Homo sapiens: one gene and its partners. The protein of the gene in region 4 purifies or fractionates together with the protein of the main gene of each other region. This does not show direct contact. Each region holds a gene or a part of one and is shown on either strand. Other genes may lie near its edges.

What was found. Proteins that work in one complex are often made in the same cells at the same time.
Region 1: the proteins of ARSK (region 4) and IGSF3 fractionate together in Homo sapiens (co-fractionation; one large-scale study listed by BioGRID). This does not show direct contact.
Region 2: the proteins of ARSK (region 4) and GNS fractionate together in Homo sapiens (co-fractionation; one large-scale study listed by BioGRID). This does not show direct contact.
Region 3: the proteins of ARSK (region 4) and SUMF1 purify together in Homo sapiens (affinity purification with mass spectrometry; one large-scale study listed by BioGRID and IntAct). This does not show direct contact.

The regions. Positions count from the first base shown.
Region 1 is NC_000001.11:116,590,539-116,595,825, forward strand, and holds part of IGSF3 (immunoglobulin superfamily member 3 isoform 2 precursor), read right to left. Parts: intron 5,204-5,287; exon of another isoform or gene 4,795-5,203; intron 4,531-4,794; exon of another isoform or gene 4,446-4,530; intron 2,773-4,445; exon of another isoform or gene 2,613-2,772; intron 1-2,612.
Region 2 is NC_000012.12:64,748,712-64,753,998, reverse strand, and holds part of GNS (N-acetylglucosamine-6-sulfatase precursor), read left to right. Parts: intron 1-1,241; coding exon 1,242-1,301; intron 1,302-5,287. UniProt on the Homo sapiens protein: Hydrolyzes 6-sulfate groups in N-acetyl-d-glucosaminide units of heparin sulfate and keratan sulfate.
Region 3 is NC_000003.12:4,460,075-4,465,361, forward strand, and holds part of SUMF1 (formylglycine-generating enzyme isoform 1 precursor), read right to left. Parts: intron 1-5,287.
Region 4 is NC_000005.10:95,589,083-95,594,369, reverse strand, and holds part of ARSK (arylsulfatase K precursor), read right to left. Parts: intron 2,970-5,287; coding exon 2,745-2,969; intron 1-2,744. UniProt on the Homo sapiens protein: Catalyzes the hydrolysis of pseudosubstrates such as p-nitrocatechol sulfate and p-nitrophenyl sulfate. Catalyzes the hydrolysis of the 2-sulfate groups of the 2-O-sulfo-D-glucuronate residues of chondroitin sulfate, heparin and heparitin sulfate.

The DNA.
Region 1 (5,287 bases), on a different chromosome or scaffold from region 4:
ACAGCAACCTAGGCCTCCTCCAACCGAGCTTGTGTGGAGGGCAGGGGCAGGGGCAGGGCAGGGATGCCTGGCCAGGCTCCAGCACTCTACTGGTCAGACTCTTGTCTCTTTAGTCCAGCTCAACCCCAGGAACTGCATCCAGACCCAGGACCCAGCCCACTGGTCATGACCCTGGCCTGCCAGCTGGCTTAAGCTTGGTTTGGCAGCATCAAGGGTTGATTGAGTCCCATGCATCACAGAACCAAAACTTGTGAAAGCCACAGACTGCCACTTGGTCTCCCTGTAACACACAGACAAATGTTCTGAATGGATGGAAGGATTTAGCAAGCCAAGGTGTGGCAAAGTCCAATTCCCAATGCCATGACTGAGCAACACTGCGGAGCATCTCCCGCAGTAAATCGGACATTCTCTCCAGGAAGACTTGTTGAATTCACAAACCCACAGACCTTCTCACGCCATCAAGAACACACCAGGCACCACTTAGAGAGAAATCCTGTGTGCCACGGCCCCACCCTCCCGGGTTCATCTTTTTTGTTAGCAAGTCCAATCTTCTGCCTTCTCCCTTCTTCAAATGCAGAAAGTCCTCTAGGGCACACTAGGAATCCAGGACAGGGTTTACCATTAAGCTCCCAAGCTCTGGAAACTAGATTTGCATTCGCTTGCCAGTCGACTTTTCAGATTGGATTCCTATAATACTTGAAACAACCGGCTCCCTTTTCATTCCTTTCCAACCCAATTCACCGCATGCAAATGATATCTATATCAGTGCAAATGACACCACCTGAATTATCTGGTTCTTGGCCAAAAAAACTGGGTTGTTCAGCATGGAGTAGAAAGAGCTTTAAAATGTATTATTAATTGGGGCCGGATTATTTTTGCAACTGTTACTAAGGAAACCTCAATTGCTATAGTAACTGCATATGTTAAACTGGAATCCTATGACTAAACTTCTATTCAGTCACATGGTCTGAGAACATGAATTCAAGGAAGAGAAATGTTTCAAAGCATTTCCATTTTTTTTCCTTCCCATGTCAAAATATTGTGAAGTGTTGAGAAGCTTGAAAGAGAGGCATTTTTTAAATTTGGTGCACGTCTGACAGGTGGGCAAGGGGTCAGCTCCTATTCTATGCTCTGGATTTCCTCCCACATCTCCAGGGCAGGTAGGACCTTTCCTGAGGCACAGGGGAGACTGGAATCTCCACATATAATTAGGGAGCCCTCCCATGTCCTGCCAGAGCCCTGCCCTGGGCGGTGTACAGCTTGCGTGCACCACCTTCCTCCACAGAGCTAGGAGAGCCCTGCCCACTTAGAGACCACAGGTGTTTTCATCTGCAAAATAAGAACAATGTCTCTATCTCCATTAGGAGTTTTGTGCAGACTAAAAGCAATGGTCTATAAAAAGAGTTTAGCACAGAACCTGGGATATAACAAACACCCAGTGAATTTTAGCTATTCTCATTCCTTTTTGGTTTCTGTGCCTTGTCCCAAGTTCAAAGTTCAACACTTAGAATGGGAGTTGTCAAGCATAAGTGGCAATCTTCCTGCTCAAAGTGCTGTTCTCGGACCAGCAGCACTGGGAGCTTGTTAGAAATGCAGACTCTCAGGCCCCACCCCAGACCCAGTAAGTCAGAATCTGCACTTTAACAAGATCCCCAGGTGATTCACAAGTAGCTTCAAGCCTGAGAAACCCTGGACTTGGCCGTGTGAGTGAATGGGCTTTGAGAGGCCATAAATGCAGACGTGAAAGAAAAGAGTGAGGCTTGGTTAACCCCCAACAGTGAATTGGCAGGAGGAAGAAAGAATCCAGCAAGAGACAGGAAGAGGGTCCGAGAGTTGCTCCAGCTCACGCCAGCAGCTGCCTTCACAGCAGCCCCCAGAGGCCAGGCCCTGCTTTGAGGGAGTGGCCCTTTCTTTCTGCAACTGGAGAGTTTCCTTCCCAGGCTTGTGATTAAAACTTGGAAGATCTGTGTTTTGTATGGTAGGAGAGGCTGTTGTGTTTGTTACAGGCCAGGATAGGGTGGTTTCAAGGTGAGACATCAGGAAGAGGGAAGAACTTCGCAGCGGAGACCAGCAGCAGCTTTCTCAGCCAGCCTACCCTCCCTTCGGATTCCACTCTGTGCGTGCTCTTCTCACTCAAAACTCATTTATTTCTTCAATAAAGGATTCCCTTACGCTCTACTATAGCTGTGTTACTGCTGCCTTACAACGAAGGTAATTCTTAAAATCTTCTCTTTCTTACAAAATTCTAAGCATATGCAGGGCAGGGACTCTGACCCAATCATTGTTAAACTAATCAATGAATGGTTGAATAAATGTGGTTACTTTTCAAAAGGAGGGGCAATTCTGATTTTGATAGAAAAGAGAACATTTCAAAAGGTATATGGCCCCTGAGCTAGGCCCTGAGAAACAAGCAGAGAAGGAGAATCAAAGGGCACGCCAGAGAGAGGGGACAAGAGGAAAAAGATGACAACTACCCTGTGCACTCTATTCAAGGAGGAGCAAGTGCTCAGGTGTAGTGGATGAGGTTAGAAAGGTAAGCTTCGGCCACACTGCAAGGGGCCTGCAGCTTGTACTTGATCCTGACCACCTGTGGCCCTCAGGGTGCACGCCATGGATCTGCAGATCAGCATCACCTGGGAATCTGCCAGCCCCTGCTAAGTCAGAAAAACTGCGAGTAAGGCTCAGCAACCTGCAGTCTCATGAGCCCTCCAATTGATTCTGATGCACATTCAAGTTTGAGAAGCAACAGCCGTGCTGCTGAGGTGGTTGCCGGTAAGTCTGGAGAAGGTGGTTTCTGTGCAGTGCTGTGAGCAGCAGCCAGAGTGGCACGTGCAAAGAGATGGGCACTGAGGGAGGAAGACACTGCTCTTTATTAAAGACAACAGACAGTAATGCTAGAGATAGAGGCGGCCAGTGGCTGCGGCAGGAGATGTTTCAAGTGGAGAGAAGCAAGTCAGATGAGAGACAAGGAAAGAATGCAGGGTGAGCTGCATGGGAAGCCAGTGGCACAGGCGCCTGCCAGTCAAACTGTTACTACCCCTGAGTCCCTCTGTCCTTAACACCCCTTGGCTCCCTGCTCTCTCCACATGACCATTCCCTATTTGGGCCCTCAATGATCTCTTTCTCAGGCTCTTGTAATTGGCCTGCATATGACACTCCCTCCCTCTCAGCCTAGCCACAGCCAGGGGATTTCCCTAAATGGCAAATGGGGCATGCTACTGCCCACGGCTGCCCACCCCACAGCCCGTGACAGCAGTTCTCAATAAGGCAGCTAATTGCAAGCAGGTCTCTGGTTGCCATATTGATTTGGGGAGGGGTATATATTCAATGGAATAAAGCCATTAAAGATGTAAAATTGTATCTGGGACAACTCCATGCAACAAAACTCTGCCTCGTGTCCTGTGTGACTTTCGAATGACATTCATATGGGCAAAAATTATGCCTCTGGGCCTAGAACCTACTTTCGTTTTACTATAATCACAATACTTTTATTTTGCATGGTTTTAAAATATGCCAGGTCAGTCAAGAGAGGATTTTCCTTTGTTTTGTTCAGAATTGTAGCAAGAGTTACTCAGGACTTCAGAAACCCTGTCAGGATGGCAGTCCTGCTCATGGTGCCAAGTCTGATACAGTGACTGTCAGTGTGCATTTAGAGACAGCGTTGACTGTGACTGTGCCTCCTAGCATAGCTGTCCTGAGCATTTACGCACTGAAACTCATTATTTTACTATGAACTACTTTTTTTAAAAAAAACTTTCTTTATCCCACAACTAGGACAATATAGCAAATTTTAAAGATATGATTAGGAATGTTATATTGTATATGAATTTCATTTCTGGGTAAAGGGAACATTATAAATTATTACAAAAATGGAGTATATGATCTGGGTATGAGCTAAAGTCCTAATTTCTGAGTTTAGGATATTCTCATTTATTTAGCAAACTTTCATCTGGTCCTATGTGCTCAGCACTATTCTAAGCACTTTATAAATATTAACTATTTGGTCCTCACCAATCCTATGAAATAAATATTATTCCCAATTTTATAAAGACACTTGCCCAAGGTCACACAGCTGGCTTAGTGGTAGAGCTGGAATTCAAACCCAGGCCGTCTGGTCTGTCCTTGCTTTTAGCTATTACATATGCCCACCCTCACCCCATGCTCCCATGTACAAAAGGGACTTCTTGATCCCTGCCAGCTTGCCTGGGGGTGAACCCTCCCCAGACCCCATGCTTTAGTCATCTCAAGATAAGCATGCTGCTCCCACCCTCCGTGACTATATTTATTCACACTCTTCTCTGAGCCTGAAATGCTCCACTCCTCCTTCCCAACCTCCCACCCTCACCCCTACCCCATTCCCTCCTCACGCCCCCTGCCCCCGTTCATGCCCTGTGCTGGCTCTGCCTCCACACCTGTAACGCTTTTCTGCTCTCCTTTGTCCCTAGGCCTGCTGCCTCCCACAGAGCCCGCAAGGCAGGAACGTGACACACCCATCTCAGCAGCCTCACCAGCATGGCAACCTGGCACTTAGTAGGTGCTCAATGCATGCAGAGAGACAGGGAGGGAGGGGCAAGGGGAAAGCAGCAAGAGTCTGCAGGTGGAAATAGCTAATGAAGGTTACCCAGATGTGCCCTACCCTGCCTTACCTGTCTGCAGGTAGGGCAGTGACCCTGGCTCCTTGATGCCAATAACAAGTGCCCCGGTGTTACCATGACAACAGGCCTGAGGGATCTGGGAGGGGCTGAGCTCTCCTCTTAGGGCTCTTGCACTGACACCCATTCTATCTTGGCACAGACAACAGGCAGAAGCCACCTGGGATGGAAGAAGGAGAACCCCAGACTCCCCTGAAAGAAGGCAGAGGCCAGTCCTCTGAGGGATGGGGCAGCCATCCCTCAGAATGTGAAAGGAGAGCCAGTGTTCACATGCTCTGGACTCATGGAAGTCAAAGAAAAGCCCTCTGCTATCCCAATCTGCCGGGTCAGCAATAAGAAATAGAAGAAAACCGATTTGGCAACATCCAGAGGGTATTAAATATTCATCCTGACTGCCCATCAGTAAAATCCCAGCAGAATACACCCTCTGACAAGTCGGCTTTCCACCACTAGAGGCTGTCCTCATGGAAGCTTGTTTATGGCTTTGTCAATTTTAATGTACAATATTTAATAGCCAAACCAAGATATTGTCATAAACATTTGGAAAATGAGTGCTAACATTTCCCTTACTGCTTCTGTATTTAAGGATATGTAATTGGAGGGTGTTTTGAGCTAAAGAAAATCAGAAGGAAGCA
Region 2 (5,287 bases), on a different chromosome or scaffold from region 4:
CCTCATTTCACCTTCAAATGTCCTCACAGTAACTCAGGTGTTTTATCAAACCAATGTCTCATGAAGCCCAGTATTCTTTTCCTGAGGATGGTACCCAGTGATGCTTTGAGGAGAGTATGGCTGACGACCTTGCTTCGGAAGGCTGGCGAAGATCTTCTGCTTCTCTAGCGTCTCTTGGCAGCCTCTTCTGGATCTACTCATGAAATTATCAGAGCTTTTTTTGGATAAGTTAGAATCCTCATCCTTTTGAGTTTATGGATTCCGTAGGTTTTGTATTTATATAAAACAATGGGGAAAAGTCATTTATACATTATTGAAAATGAGGCTCCTGTTAACCTACTTATGTATTTAGATTAGCAATCTTTAAGGAATTATTGCACAACAAAATATACTTAAAACTGCATTCAATATGGTCTTAGGTTTCAAAGGTATCTCAGAATCATCGTGAACTGACCCATATTACAACTAAAATGACCTCTTCAATGGTGCTTTTTGCTGTCTGGAATCTGAAGAATATTAGTGTTCCTTTTATTCGTATTTAAATGACTGTCTTCATACTTTTGTCCTCATTCTAGAAGGAAGTTAATTGTTCTCTGTACTTGTAAGGATCTTAGATTTTGAACAAAAGATGAAAAGCAGGACATAAAATAGTTTCTGAGTAGCCTTTTGCCTGACAGTGTTCTGTGTACACCTGCTTGCCACCTGGTTCAAGTCCTTATCCTGAGGTGCTTGTGGGTCTATGCAGACAACAGTAGTTGGTAGTTGAACAGTGTGTGTCTGGCCTCCACCACTGAGTGTGTGAGGTTTGAATCAGTCTCGGAGTCCTGGGGCCTTGTCTGGCTTTCAGAATCCAACTGTTGTCTTACTTCTGTTCTATAGGGCGGAAGGCTCCCTTTATATCATTTCCCACATCCTACTTCTAAAGATTAATTCATGGAGATAGGTCTGCCCTATCTGCCTTATCTGGGCGCTGATGACTAATAAGGGCACAAAGATGTTATTGCCATCAACTGAACTTTCCCTTCCTGCAAGCATTTTGACTTCCTGCACTTTTATACAGGATGGAGCTGGCCGGAACCAAACTTGTCTCTAGAATCATACAAGACTCTCTTTGGCTGTTGCTTAGAGCTGACCATTTGGGAATAAAAGATTGAGTAAGATGTAACAAAACAGGAATTCTGGGCTGTGTGTCTCAATTTATTGGAAGAAATTGTTTAATGGATAATTACTTACTTTTACAGACACCGCTAAAGAAAACCAAAGCTCTCATCGGAGAGATGGGGATGACTTTTTCCAGTGCTGTAAGTTTGAAAGTTAATTCAATTTTGTTAATTTAACTGTGTTTGTATTCTAAGAAGATACTCTCTTCTCGGGAATCTGGTATGATCTATGTGGTTTTTTCCTTGTTAAATGCCTGATCTGAAGGAAGGATTTATTTAATGTGAATTTTAATTGAAATATTACCTCTTATCAATTGAAGATTAATTGCAGATATTTCTAAGCCAGTCTCAGAACTAGAGAATTTTATTTTAAACCTTACCATTTGAGGTTTGAAAATGGATTATAAAAAATCAAGGAATATGTATGCTGTGTAAACTTTTCCTTGGTAAAAACCCAATTAACCCTAATAGCCAAAACTGACAAATAGCAACACACACACCCCATAAATATAGATGCAGAAATTCAAAATAAAGTATTAGCAATTCATTTTCAAGAACCATGTACATAACCAAGTGAATGGTAGTCTAGGAATGTAAGGGTAGCCTACTATCAGGGAATCCCTTGAACAGTAGCATAGTGTTATGTTTAAGTGCTCAGACTCTGGAGCCAGACTGCCTAGTCTGGAACACCCTCTCTGCCTCTTTTCTAGCAGTGTGACCTTGGACAAACTATTTAACCTCTCTGGCCCTCTTCCTCCCCATTTATAAAAGGGAGTACCAAAATCTTCTTCAGAGTTGTTGTGAGGTTGAGTTAATAGGTGTAGAGCACTTCTATCAGTGCCTGACTTATTTTTTCTTTTCTTTCTTCTTTTTTTTTTTTTTTTTTTGAGTGGCGCAATCTCGACTCACTGCAACCTCGGCCTCTGGGGATCAAGCAGTTCTCCTGCCTCAGCCTTCTGGGTAGCTGAGATTACAGGCACCCACCACCATGCCCTGCTAATTTTTTGTATTTTCAGTAGAGATGGGGTTTCACCATGTTAGCCAGGCTGGTCTTGAACTCCTGACCTCAAGTGATCTGCCCGCCTCGGCCTCCCAAAGTGCTGGGATTACAGGCATGAACTACCGCACCCAGCCAATGCCTGACTTCTTATAGTAAATACTACATGATGTTGGTTATTATATGTCTACCAACATGATACAAGTAAGTGAAAGAAGGAAAATTGAATGTTCTTCCCAATAGATACGAGAAAGTACTCTGAAATTTTAGCATTCTTTCCTGGTAATAAGCTATCATAAGAATACATCCTGACTATGATGCCTATTTCAAATACATAAGGTAAAAGACTCAGGGCATTGCTGTTAGGGATGAAACAGTGCTCCATTTAATGTTGTTCCGACTGTCTAGTCATAGCCATAAGTCTTATGGAAATAAGAGGTAAAAATATTGGAAAAATTATTTCTGCTTGTTTGGATTTTCTATCTAAGAAACACAGGAGAATTATTGAAAACCCTTTAAAATCACTAGAATTCAGCAAGATAAAAATGAAAAAATAAAAATTAATAACTTTCTTCCATGTAATCAGTTAGAAAAATAGAAGGCGGGAGACAAAATATCTCATTCATAATTATTTCTTTTTATTCTATATAAAGACAGAGAAAAGGTCTCACTCACTATGTAGCCCGGGCTGGTCTGGAACTCCTGAGCTCAAGTGATCCTTCCATCTCAGTCTCCCAAAGTGCTAGGATTACAGGTGTGAGCCACCATGCCCAGCCTCATTCATAATTTATAAACTCTCTAAGAGTAACTGGTTGGGGCCAGAAATGGCTATGACCTATGTATTTTACAAAATGATGCGAGTGGTAAGATAAAAAATATTTGATACGTAGATATGCACATCATTTTATATACATTTCTTTCTTTTTTTTCTTTTTTGAGACAGGGTCTCACTCTACCGCCCATGTTGGAGTGCAGTGACGTAGCTCACTGAAGACTTGAACTCAAACTCCTGGGCTCAGATGATCCTCCCGCCTCAGCTTCCCAAGTAACTCGGACTACAGGCATGCATCACCACACTTGGCCAATTTTTTTCCACTTTTTTTTAGTGACAGGGTCTCACTCTGTTGCTCAGGCTGGTCTCAAACTCCTGGCCTCAAGTGATCCTCTGCTTTAGCTTCCCAAATAGCTGGGATTACAGGTGTGAGCCACTGTGCTCAGCTAAGACACAATATTATGTAATAAAATGTTTATTCTAGTTGTAATCCTAACAAGATTATTTGAGACTCAAGTGATTCCAAAAGTTATCTGGAATAATAAATAGATGAGAATAATCAAAGTAATTTTTTTAAAAAATTACAGTGGCTCATGCTGTAATCCCAGCATGTTAGGAGGCTGAGGCAGGTGGATTGCTTGAGCTCAGGAGTTTGAGACCAGCCTGGGCAATATGGCAAGAGCCTATATCTACTAAAAATACTTAAAAATACCTGGGCATTGGGCCAGGCATGGTGGCTCACACCTGTAATCTCAGCACTTTGGGAGGCTGAGGTGGACAGATCACCTGAGGTCAGGAGTTCGAGACCAGCCTACCCAACATGGTGAAACCCCATCTCTACCAAAAATACAAAAAATTAGCCGGGCGTGGTGGCGAGCGCCTATGAGCCCAGCTACTTGGGAGGCTGAGGCATTAGAATTGCTTGAACCCAGGAGGTAGAGGTTGCAGTGAGCCAAGACTGTGCCACTGCACTCCAGCCTGGGTGACAAGAGCGAAACTCCATCTCAAACCAACAACAGCAACAAAAACAGAGGCATGGTGGTGCACGTCTGTGGTCCCATCTACTTTGGGAAGTTGGGGTGGGAGGATTGCTTAACCCTGAGGTTGCGGAGGTTGCAGTGAGCTGAGATCGCACCACTGTACTCCATCCTCGGTGACAGAGTAAGACCCTGTCTCAAAAAAAAAAAAAAAAAAAATTGCTCTACCAGATGCTAAAATGTAATATTAAGATAAACTGTGTACTGGCCATAAAATTGATCAGAAAACAAAAAGAGAAAGAGTTAAGAGTTGCCAATTTAAACTTAAGAAGTCAAACATCTAATAAAAGGCAAAAGTAAAAATGGGAAGTATTTGTAACATGACTGAATTCTTCCTTAACTTAAATCTTATGTAACAAGAGGCCGACAGCCCTGGGGGAAAAAAATGAGCAAAGCATATGAACAAACCGTTCACATAAACACAGTCAGTTAGTACATGTGGAGAATGTTCCTCCTCACCATTTTTTAAAAATGTCAAATCGGCTAGACACGGTGGCTCACGCCTATAATCCCAGCACTTTGGGAGGCCAAGGCGGGTGGATCACGAGGTCAAGAGATCGAGACCATCCTGGCTAACACTGTGAAACCCCATCTCTACTAAAACTACAAAAAATTAGCCGGGCGTGGTGGCGGGCACCTGTAGTCCCAGCTACTTGGGAGGCTGAGGCAGGAGAATGGCGTGAACCCAGGAGGCGGAGCTTGCAGTGAGCTGAGATCGCGCCACTGCACTCCAGCCTGGGCAATAGAGCGAGAATGTGTCTCAAAAAAAAAAAAAAAAAAAAAAGCCAAATCAAGGCCGGGCACAGTGGCTCACGCCTGTAATCCCAGCACTTTGGGAGGCCGAGGCAGGTGGATCATGAGGTCAGGAGATCGAGACCATTCTGGCTAACACGGTGAAACCCCATCTCTACTAAAAATACAAAAAATTAGCCAGGCATGGTGGCGGGTGCCTGTAGTCCCAGCTACTTGGGAGGCTGAGGCAAGAGAATGGTGTGAACCCGGGAGGCGGAGCTTGCAGTGAGCCAAGATCGCGCCACTGCACTCCAGCCTGCGTGACACAGCGAGACTCCATCTCAAAAAAATAAATAAAAATAAAAATGCCAAATCAAATTTGAAAGGCAAAAAAACTTGCTAATATTGAAAGGATAATACCCAATTTTTGCATGAGTGTGTGCTCAAATGCCCATTCCTTCCCTGCTGGTCCAAGTATAAGCTAGTATTCCTTCCCTGCTGGTCCAAGTATAAGCTAGTATTACCTTTCTGTGAAGTGGCTTGGTGATGTGTACCAATATGATTGGGTAGAATGGGGAAAATCTGTTGC
Region 3 (5,287 bases), on a different chromosome or scaffold from region 4:
GGAAAGATCTCACCATGATGAGCTACAAGAACAAAGCAAGGTGCACAAATGCTAAGTATGGTATGCTGTCATTAGCGTGAAAGTAGGTTGAGGGATACAGGTACACTATTTTTGTATTTACTTATATTTGCAGAACATAGCTCTGAGGAAATATATAAGAAATGCATGCAGTGGTTGTCTGAGGGGAAAGTTACTGGGTAAATGAGAAATTGTTCACTATATACTCTTCTATATGTTTTTAAATTTTTAAACCACGTAAATATACTACCTGTTTTAAAAAATAAAGTGTCAATCTGACCATACTACTTTCCTACTTAAAACTGTCAGGAATTCCTATCGCCTTTCAGAATAACATATATAAACATCAGAGCTCATCTCTCACACTCTCTCTTGCCCTGTCTTTCACCCGCATTTCCATAAACCACTTTGTCTCTTGGTAAATATTGTCATGGTTCAAGGATCAGCTCCTCCAGGAGGCCTTTCCTGCCTGCATATCCCTCTAGCTCATGTGCCCTCACACACACAGTGTGTGTGTGTGTGTGTGTGTGTGAGAGTGTGTGTGTGTATATATATACATATATATATATATATATTTTTTAAGAGATGGAGTCCCACTCTGTCACCCCACGCTGGAGTGCAGAGGCGTGATCACAGCTCACAGCACCCTTGATCGTCTGGTCTCAAGCAACTCTCCCACCTCAGCCTCTACGCAGCTGGCACTACAGGTGAACACCAACACACCCTGCTAATTTTTTTTTTTAGTAGACACGAGGTCTTGTTATGTTGCCCAGGCTAGTCTCCAACTTCTGAGTTCAAGTGATACTCCTGCTTCAGCCTCCCAAAGTGCTGGGCTTACAGGCATGAGCCACCGCATCCCACCCAAAGTATCTTAATTCTGTGTTTTCATCTTCCCTAGAACCTAGGCTCTTTGAGGACCAGAAATGAATCTTTTATTTCTATATCCCCACTGCCTAGCATGGTGCATGGTCCACAGCAGACACAAAAATCTTTACCAATTGAATGAGGTCATGACTGTAATGAGGAATTTATCATTTGAATTATGCATAATTATAAAAATGCTATTTAATTTATAACAGTTCTAGACATGCATAACATGTCAACATCACAGTGAAACCTGTCTAACAGATGTAGGTCAAGGACCGAACTAGGTTGTCCATTATTCTCACTATACTCTAAGTGCTGGGACACAAGATAACCCAGTCCTAAAAGGAGAAATCAACATTTTAAGCAGCTCTACAAAGAAGTAGAAAAATTGAAGACATCAGACAAAAGTTTCAAGAGCAGTCTTAAAATGATTAAGAGGCTCTAATAAGAGATTTCATAAAAGACTTAAAGAAAAAGCTTTCCTGTGGCAAATACTTCCTGTTAGGAGAACAGTTGCTCATCCCTCAGCTCAAAGGACCACAGGAAGCTGTGCCCATTGTACCTAATGAACTTTTACAATTATCTAACTTTTCTCATCTTCTTCTCCCTCAAGGTGAGTACCAACAATGCTAATGCAATCATGACTTCCATGTGAACTTCCGGCCGAGTTTTTTTTTTTTCCTTCTTTCATTAACCATCAGAGATAGCCAGTGCTGAATAAGCCAAGTTTCCATTCTGGAGACTATAGATAAAAATAGCCTGGATCACTCTGAGTGGATCATAATTTCTCATTTATACTAATGAAATAAAGTTTTCTGTCCTACAAATGTCAAATGTCATTCAAGTGAAAACCAGAGAACCAAGTGTCTCACTCTGTAGGATCCAAAGCCACATAAAAAGGACCATTTTAGTCAACTCTTCACTGAAGGTTCAAATTCAAACAATCCATATCTCCTCCAATCTGAAGGTGAGATAACCCCTTCCCTGCCACACCACAGCTTCTGCCACTGCCACTCAAGCCAGAAGCATAAGTGAAGTAAAGAATGACTCTATTATTCATTGGAATAACAGAACCATATGTGGGCTACACACTTAGGCCATGTGCAGTGGGCACTGCTATTTTGGTCCATCCGGCACCCAATCCCTCTACTTCTTGTAAAATACTGAAGTTCCTTTCCAAAACCATTTCTTAAGCTTTCTAAGTGGCCCAGGGGTACTGGATGACTCTATCCTACTTCCCAACCCCCACCAAGCCTGGCCAACCATAGCATTCTTTTGACCACGGAGATGTAATTAGGGATAGGCCCAAGACCCAATCAAAGTTCATCTTTGAACTTTTGCTGGAGCTACCAGGAAAGAACTTTTTCTCTTCTAGTTATCTTATCAGTAGGAGAAGGGACATTACCTGACAATGGAGCCGACTATGCAGAAGAGCCAAGAGATAGCCAAAGAGAAAGGCCTTGGAGATGCTGCCTGAGGCCCTGTATCCAGGTGTGTCTGGGGCCATATTTACTCTTGAACTTCCCAACTAGGGGAGCTATAAATGTCCCTTCCAGTTTTTTCCTGCTTAAGCCAGTCTTGTCTTTTTTTCACTTGCTACCGTAAGATTTTTGTCTTGTACACAAAAATAGAATCAGCTCATACGTAACTTTTTTGTGTAACTTCTCCTTTTCCTTCTTTCCTCTCCTCAACCTTAACATTAAAAGCTAAAGGCTCTTGTTCTGAGTCCCCTCTAATAAAAAATAAAATAAAATAAGCTAAAGGTTCATGAGAAAGCTGGGTGAATAAGAGAAGCATGCTCTCTGGATCTGTCCACAAACTCCTGCCTTATCTATCTATACAGGGCTTATTTATCTATACCATTCTGTCACCCTCCTGCCTCTACAGACAGACACTAATCATAGATGAAATGACATTCAAAGTTTCTTGCAGTTCTGAGCTATATGATTCCTTTAAGCCTCAGTTGCCTCATCTGTAAAGTGGGAGATGATCTCTCTCACAGGATTCTTAGGAGGATGAATACAGCAAAAGAATACTTTACAAATGTTTCTTGAAAAAGTATGTGACCTTCTCTATTCCCAAGGCAGTTTCTCAATACTGTATCCACCAAAAAAGGAAACACAGGTCATTCAAGAAATTATTACAGAATGCCTAAAATGTATAAGGCACGTGGGGGATATAGAGATTAAAACATCTAAAAATGCTTCCAATGTAGAATATCAGACAACTACAAAACTAGCACTACATTAGGGCTGGGCGCGGTGGCTCACGCCTGTAATCCCAGCACTTTGGGAGGCAGAGGCAGGTGGATCACGAAGTCAAAAGATCGAGACAATCCTGGCCAACGTGGTAAAACCCCGTCTCTACTAAAAATACAAAAATTGGCCAGGCGTGGTGGCAGGTGCCTGTAGTCCCAGCTACTTGGGAGGCTGAGGCAGGAGAATCATTTGAACCCAGTAGGCAGAGGTTGCAATGAGCCGAGATTGCACCACTGCACTCCAGCCTGGGTGACAGAGCGAGACTCCGTCTCAAAAACAAAACAAAACAAAACAAAAAAACACTAGCACCATATTGAAGAAAATATACAAGTTGTCATCAAACAACAACAAAATAAGCTATGGGAACTGAGAGGATAGAAAAACTACTTCTTTGTAGGAGGTGGAAAGGTTTCATGGAAGAGACGGCATTCGATTGTGCCTCATTGCCCAGGGAAGCATTACCAGTCAGAAACCTCCTCAGACAGGAAATCAAGACTGACTTTATCCATATGTACAGACATGCCACCTACAATCTTAGCATCCCATGATCCTAAATGCCTTTCAAATAACTCTTCTAAAAGATAAAAGCAGACTAAAACATTTTGCTTCCTTGTTACAAAATCATAACCCACGCAGAAAACTATTAGGATAATTTTCTCAATGAGAATCATATTTTTATAACCAGAGGGAATACACATTAAATTTTTAAACATCTATATTGTTTCCCAGACAATTCTAATCGCCATAACTTTCTAGTGAAACTGAAAATTTCTTGAGGGCAAAGCCCAGTGTTATTTCTCTGTGCCCCTCACCTTGCCACACACACTCATTGTATGAATACACAAAAACAAAAAAAGACTCATCTAAAAAGTGTTACATTAAAAAGTGTGAACATGTCACTCCCAGATCTTAAATCACTTATGTTTCCCAGCACACACCACGCATTTCCACAATGTGCCATGTGTTGATACTATTCTCCTTCTTGGAATGTCCTTGAATCTGGAATTCCATTCCCAGCTCCGAAAAATATTTCCTCCAAGGCCTAGCTCAAATGTGGCCTTTTTTTTTTTGAGGCACTACTCGACTTGTCCATGAAGAATTAATTCTTTCTTCCTCTCCAGGTACTCTGGACATATCCCTCCTATAGTATTCTCACTATAGAAAAATGATACTTATGTGTGTGTCTGTGTGTGTTTGTGTGTGTGTGTGTGTGTGAGAGAGAGAGAAACACCTACCAGAGTGTAAATGCCATGTGGGTAGTGTATGGGTCTTTTTCTGTATGCCCAGCACATAGGATGAATCTTACATAACAAGTGTTATATAGTAATGTGCCAAATAAACATTTGTTTAATTAAACCAAATAAACAGAAAACAAAGAGGGGAAAAAAGGCAGAAACACCACTATGCTCATTTACTTCTCCTGAAATATTGGAGTTCCTGAATTTAGAATAAATGGTAAAGTGTCAGAATTAGACCAAAGTCATCTGCACATGAACTAAAACATTTGAAACCAAGGAAAATAGAGAGATTAAGAACAGCCTCCTATGACGTCATTGTCTTGATAACAAGACTGCTTCAGTTTCAGTCATTAAGTTCAGCCCTTGAAGGCTTGAAGGTATATTCTCATCAACCACTAATTTGTTAATAAATTGAGATGCCCCTAAGCATTGTAGAAAGCAGACTATAAGAACTGGCCAAAGATGGCCCATATAGCATCCAGTCAAGACACAAAACCACTCTATAGGGATGAAAAATGTACATCTTGTAAATGTAATCCAAAAGATTCTAACATCCACATCCCATTCTGGAACCCAGAGGAAAATAGAATGTTTAAAAATGAAAAATGTTCAATGCTTGCCAGAGGAATCTAGATAAAATTTTGAGACAGACCAATGTATATATGCAAATGAGATGGCTGCCCTATTAAAAAATAGATAAACAGATGTAAGGATTTCTCCTTAGAAAGAGGGACAGACTGGCTTGGCGCGGTGGCTCACGTTTGTAATCCCAGCACGCTGGGAGGCCAAGGCAAGCGGATCACAAGGTCAGGAGATTGAGACCATCCGGGCCAACATGGTGAAACCCCATCTCTATTAAAAATACAAAAATTAGCTGGGTATGGTGGCGTGTGCCTGTAATCCCAG
Region 4 (5,287 bases):
GGTATTCCTCTTTTTCTTACAGATTTATAAGAGCTCTATGAATATTAAACCTTTATCATTTATAAAAAGATTAATTTAAGTAAATAATTGTGTTACAATGTTGTCTCCTGGCTCCAGCATAAGGTTTTTGTTGCATTGTTCTCTTTCTACCATTATCACTGGTTAACATCTGGTTAATAGAATGTTTCAGTGTTTTATATAAAGACCCATCCATAGGTATTCTCCACTCACTCTTCCCCAACTAAAAAAATCATTTAAATGTAGCTTTCCCTCTTCTGATAATAAAAATAATATTCAATGTGAAACACATTATAAACTGTGCTAAGCCACGAAGATGTTAATTTTTCAGTTTAGAATTGGAGAGATTTATTTTTGACTTTATTTCCTTTTACTGAGGAGGTCTAATCAACACATGATCTAAATGCTGTTAATAAAACATATTCTGCAGGGAAATGTGACTTAGAAGGAGTCTATTACCAAGAATCTTATGAAAAATAAAAATCTATATAAAACTATAGTTTTAGAGAATTATAATAATTGACAAATTGCAGGAAAAAAACCTACAGGTGCAGGGAATTTACATCATTTACAGAAGAGTTGGGATGGAATTTAGAGGAGTTTCTGAGACAGTATTTTCTTAGCTAGAGAAATTCTTATTAGCAAGTAACATAAATTAGGCAGTGATGATAGGTAGATGCATGAGAATTTCCCCATTCTAACAAATTTTATTTAGTATTTTCTTATATGACCTGTTAAATACATTATGAAATCTGCTAGTTTGCAGATGACCTTTAACTTTTATGATGTATAAAATGGCAAGAAGTAATAATGGTATCTTCTCAAGATTGTAGAGTACAAAATTTGCATTGTGGGCAAATATAAAATAATGTTTAAAGAAAAATGATTTAAACCATGCATTTTAATTAACTAACATATATGATGACAGAATGTCTAAGAATTGAATAGGGCTCACTGTAGACAACTCCCTAAAGATATTTAACTATTTAGCTGCTAGAGTCAAATAGATAAAATGGCAACTATCACTTTGAAATATACTGAGGGAAAAACGGAGAAAGAATCACCCCAGCTTTCCATAATCTTTTACAATACCTTTTTGCAGTTCTGGTCACTATACCTCAAGAAAACAGAATGAGGCTAAAAAGTCAAGCAAAGATGACCCAAGGAAGATTTTCTTTGGGAATGGGGAGGGTAGGGAGAGTTCTACATGAAGAAAAATTAAGGAAGGAAATTGTAAAGAATATAGGCATATATTCATAAAACTCTAAATTCATATATATTCATAAAACTCTAAATATACTAATAAAAGAGACCCAAATATACACAGTTCTATATAAACTTCTTTAAAAAAAACACAGAAATGAGGAAAAGTAATAGTGATCAGCTAGAAACTAATGGAATGAGAAAGTGGCCCAGATATGGCTGAGTGTGATCATTACTTTGGGATAAAGGGAAACCAGCAAATGATGACTAAGAAACAGAAGAGATTAAAAATTCAAAGAACTGGCCAGGCTTAGTGGCTCACGCCTGTAATCCCAGCACTTTGGGAGGCCGAGGCAAGCGGATCACAAGGTCAAGGGATCAAGACCATCCTGGCCAACATGGTGAAACCCCATCTCTACTAAAAACACAAAAATTAGCTGGACATGGTGGCAGGCGCCTGTAATCCCAGCTACTCAGGAGGCTGAGGCAGGAGAATCACTTGAAACTGTTAGGCAGAGGTTGCAGGGAGCCGAAATCGCACCACTGCACTCCAGCCTGGGTGAAAAAGCGAAACTCCATCACACACACACAAAAAAAAAGAGTTCAAGGAACTGGAAAGAAGTATGTGTAATTATATGAGAAGGGATATGAAATAAAAGAGGAAAGGACGCTGGTTTAAATTAACTCTAAATAAATTTAGTTAAATTAAGGGAAGAACTTTGTGGCAGAAGGAAGCAGATAAAAAGAACTCTGATTTCTTTGATTTTAAGATGCATCTTTCTTTCACATTTTAACATTTCTGAAATTAGAGAACATAACTTGTGCTATTTTTTTTTCTTTCACCAAAATTTATGAATTGAGGGTACTTTTTCCAATTGATGGTGCCTTAGAACAGAGAAACTAGTGTTTAAATGCTAATGAATTTAAAGTACTTTGCTAAATGAGATAGAAACTAGAAGTTAGTTCTATGATTTCCTTTGAATTTGATTATGTCGTTATTCTAGTATCTTCAACAAAAACTGCTAACTACCCTTATCCATATGTTGCTTTTCTAGACATATGGCTATGCTTGTAGACATTAAGAAGCTAGTAAAGCAAATAGTACAGAACTATCTAAAGAGTCTGAGGAGGAATATGTTCATACTAGTTTCAAAGTGAATAGAATAATTCAGAAAGGAAATGCTTACATTTTAAGGAGGTGGTGGTAGACAATCAAATGATGTACAAATCATATCTATAAGGTTATGAACCCGAATATCTTACATGGCTTACTTTACAGTCATCTCCTGAATACAAATCTTTTGAGGGAAAATGACTATAGTAAGTGAAGGCCACAGGGACATGAAAAACAATCTCTTCATTCTTCAGAGTACAGATTTGACTCACAGTTGAATGAGTTGCTCAGGGTTATAAACAAGTCAGCAGGACCTCTGACTACTAACTGAAAGACTGACTCACTGACAACTTCAGTTGCATTCTCCAGCATTATTACAAATAAATATTTACAGAACTACATTACTTACCAAGCATGGTAGGGTAAATATCCACAAGAGAAACCACATTTGATACTTGTAGGCCGGCTTTAATTCCTGGTCCCATCATCAAAAGCGGAACATGTGCACTAGCCTCGTACATGCTCATTTTATAAAACTGTCGATGTTCCATGGCCAGCTCTCCATGGTCTGAGGAGTATATGACAATAGTTTTCTGAAGAAGATCTAATTGATGAAGGGCCAAAATAATTTCACCTACAATAGAAATCATGATAAACCGATTAAAACTTTCAGTTCATGTTTTATTCTATCACATTAAGTTTATAACCACTCTACCCTATAAGAGTTTGTCACTATGCTTCTTAACATCTGAATATTACCTACTGTTCTCAAGTTAAGTCTAAAGTTGACAGTGGTCTGTCTACTGCTTGCTCTTCAGCTGACTAGAGGAAGAAGAAAATATAATACCCATGGGAACTCTTGCTCAAAGCTGCTTATCTGGAGATCATGCCGGCTTGTTTTCTAGGTTTCTACCAGAGAATAGGGGAAAAAATCTTCCCCTTAGTGCCTTGAATGAGAAAAGAAAGATCAGTTGGATATGAGCACTTTACATGTCTCAGATGATAAAAAGATTGGTATCACCTCTGACCCACAGTTTCTGTGCAACAGGAAGTGATAAGAGCAGTCAGAACTCTTCTTCTCTGCTACTTTTTCTCCCAAATCTCTAAGCAATCACCAGATCATGCTCATAAAGTTGGCTGAGGATTATGGAAATCCCACCTTTGAAGAAGGGCTGGAAGCAGGACAGATAGTGTACAAGTTTGATTTAGCATCTTCTTGGATAGGGAATAATGGGACAGTAAAATTCCTCTGACCAGTTCCTGTCTCAGTGTTCTCGAACTTCCTCCTACTGTAATTAAGAGAATCACAAGAAAGCACAGGCCAGAGAGAAGGGTCATCCCTATTTTGGCAGTTCCTGAATCTGGGTAGAAGAGTGTATATTAATTTAAAAACCTACAGATTCTGAGGTGTAATCAGGATTGACATTCACTGCTCTATGGAGTTATTTGCAGAGTTGAGACTCTCTTGATTTTTCAACTGGACAACTGGAATTACTTACTAATCGGTCTTGCCCCTACTCCTCTTTCCCCTGCTTGTACTATCCTGGTGTCTATCTTTCTAAATTACCTAATCACTCCATTGTGTCACATCCCTGCTTGAAACTTTTTCATAGATGCCCACTGTCGAATTCTTTAGCATAACAAGCAATGCCCCTGTCCACTCTCCACACTCAGCACCCTCGGCTACCTGCTAGACCTTTACGTTTCAACAATCCTAACCTGCTCAGAACCTCCTAAACACACACCATATTAGTTTACGCTTTCTTGCCTCTGCATATACTCTGCCATTTATGGTGAATGCCCTTTCTCCCACAGTCTACTTGACAAATTCCTATTCTTCCTTTATGACCCAGCTCAAACATGCATTATCTCTCTAGCAAAGCACCATTCCCTGCTCTTCTAGGTAGAGTAAATCACTTTGTTCTTCAGGATGCCTACAACTTGCATATTACTGTAGTCACAACAACACATTGTAATTCTTAGCATTTATGCTCATTCAATAAATGTTTACCGATTATGCTCATTCAATAAACGTCTAACTGGCAATAAATAATTGCCAGTTAGAATGGTAATTATTACAAAGTCAAGAAACAACAGATTTTGGAGAGGTTGTGGAGAAATAGGAATGCTTTTACACTGTTGGTGGGAATGTAAATTAGTTCAGCCATTGTGGAAGACAGTGTGGCAATTCCTCCAAAATTTAGAACCAGAAACACCATTTGACCTAGCAATCCAATTACTGGGTATATACCCAAAGGAATATACATCATTCTATTACAAAGATACATGCACATGTGTGTTCACTGCAGCACTATTCACAATAGCAAAGACATGGAATCAACACAAATGCCCACCAACAATAGACTGGATAAAGAAAATGTGGTACATCTACACCATGCAATACTACGCAGCCATAAAAAGGAATGAGATCATGTCCTTTGCGGGGACATGGATGGAGCTAGAAGCCATTATCTTTAGCTAACTAACGCAGGAACAGAAAACCAAACACTGCATGTTCTCACTTATAAGTGGGAGCTGAACAATGAGAACACATGAACACGGGGAGGGGAACAATACACATTGGGGCCTGCCAGGGAAGGGAGAGCATTAGGAAAAATAGCTAATGCATGCTGGGCTTAATACCTAGGTGATGGGTTGATAGGTGCAGCAAACCACCTTTTACCTATGCACACGTTTACCTATGTAACAAACCTGCATACCCTGCACATGTACCCTGGAACTTAAAATAAAAATAAAAGAATGTCCCCGCCCTCATGAAGCTTGTGTTCTTCTAGGGAAACAGATGGTAAACAGACGAATAATTAGTATTACTATGTAAACAACCTGACAAGGTATAAAGTAAGCAGAATGATGGAGCTGGCACACTGAGTTAGAGTGGTTGGGGAAGACATCCCTGAGGAGGTAACAACTGAGCTGGGATCTAAAGACAGA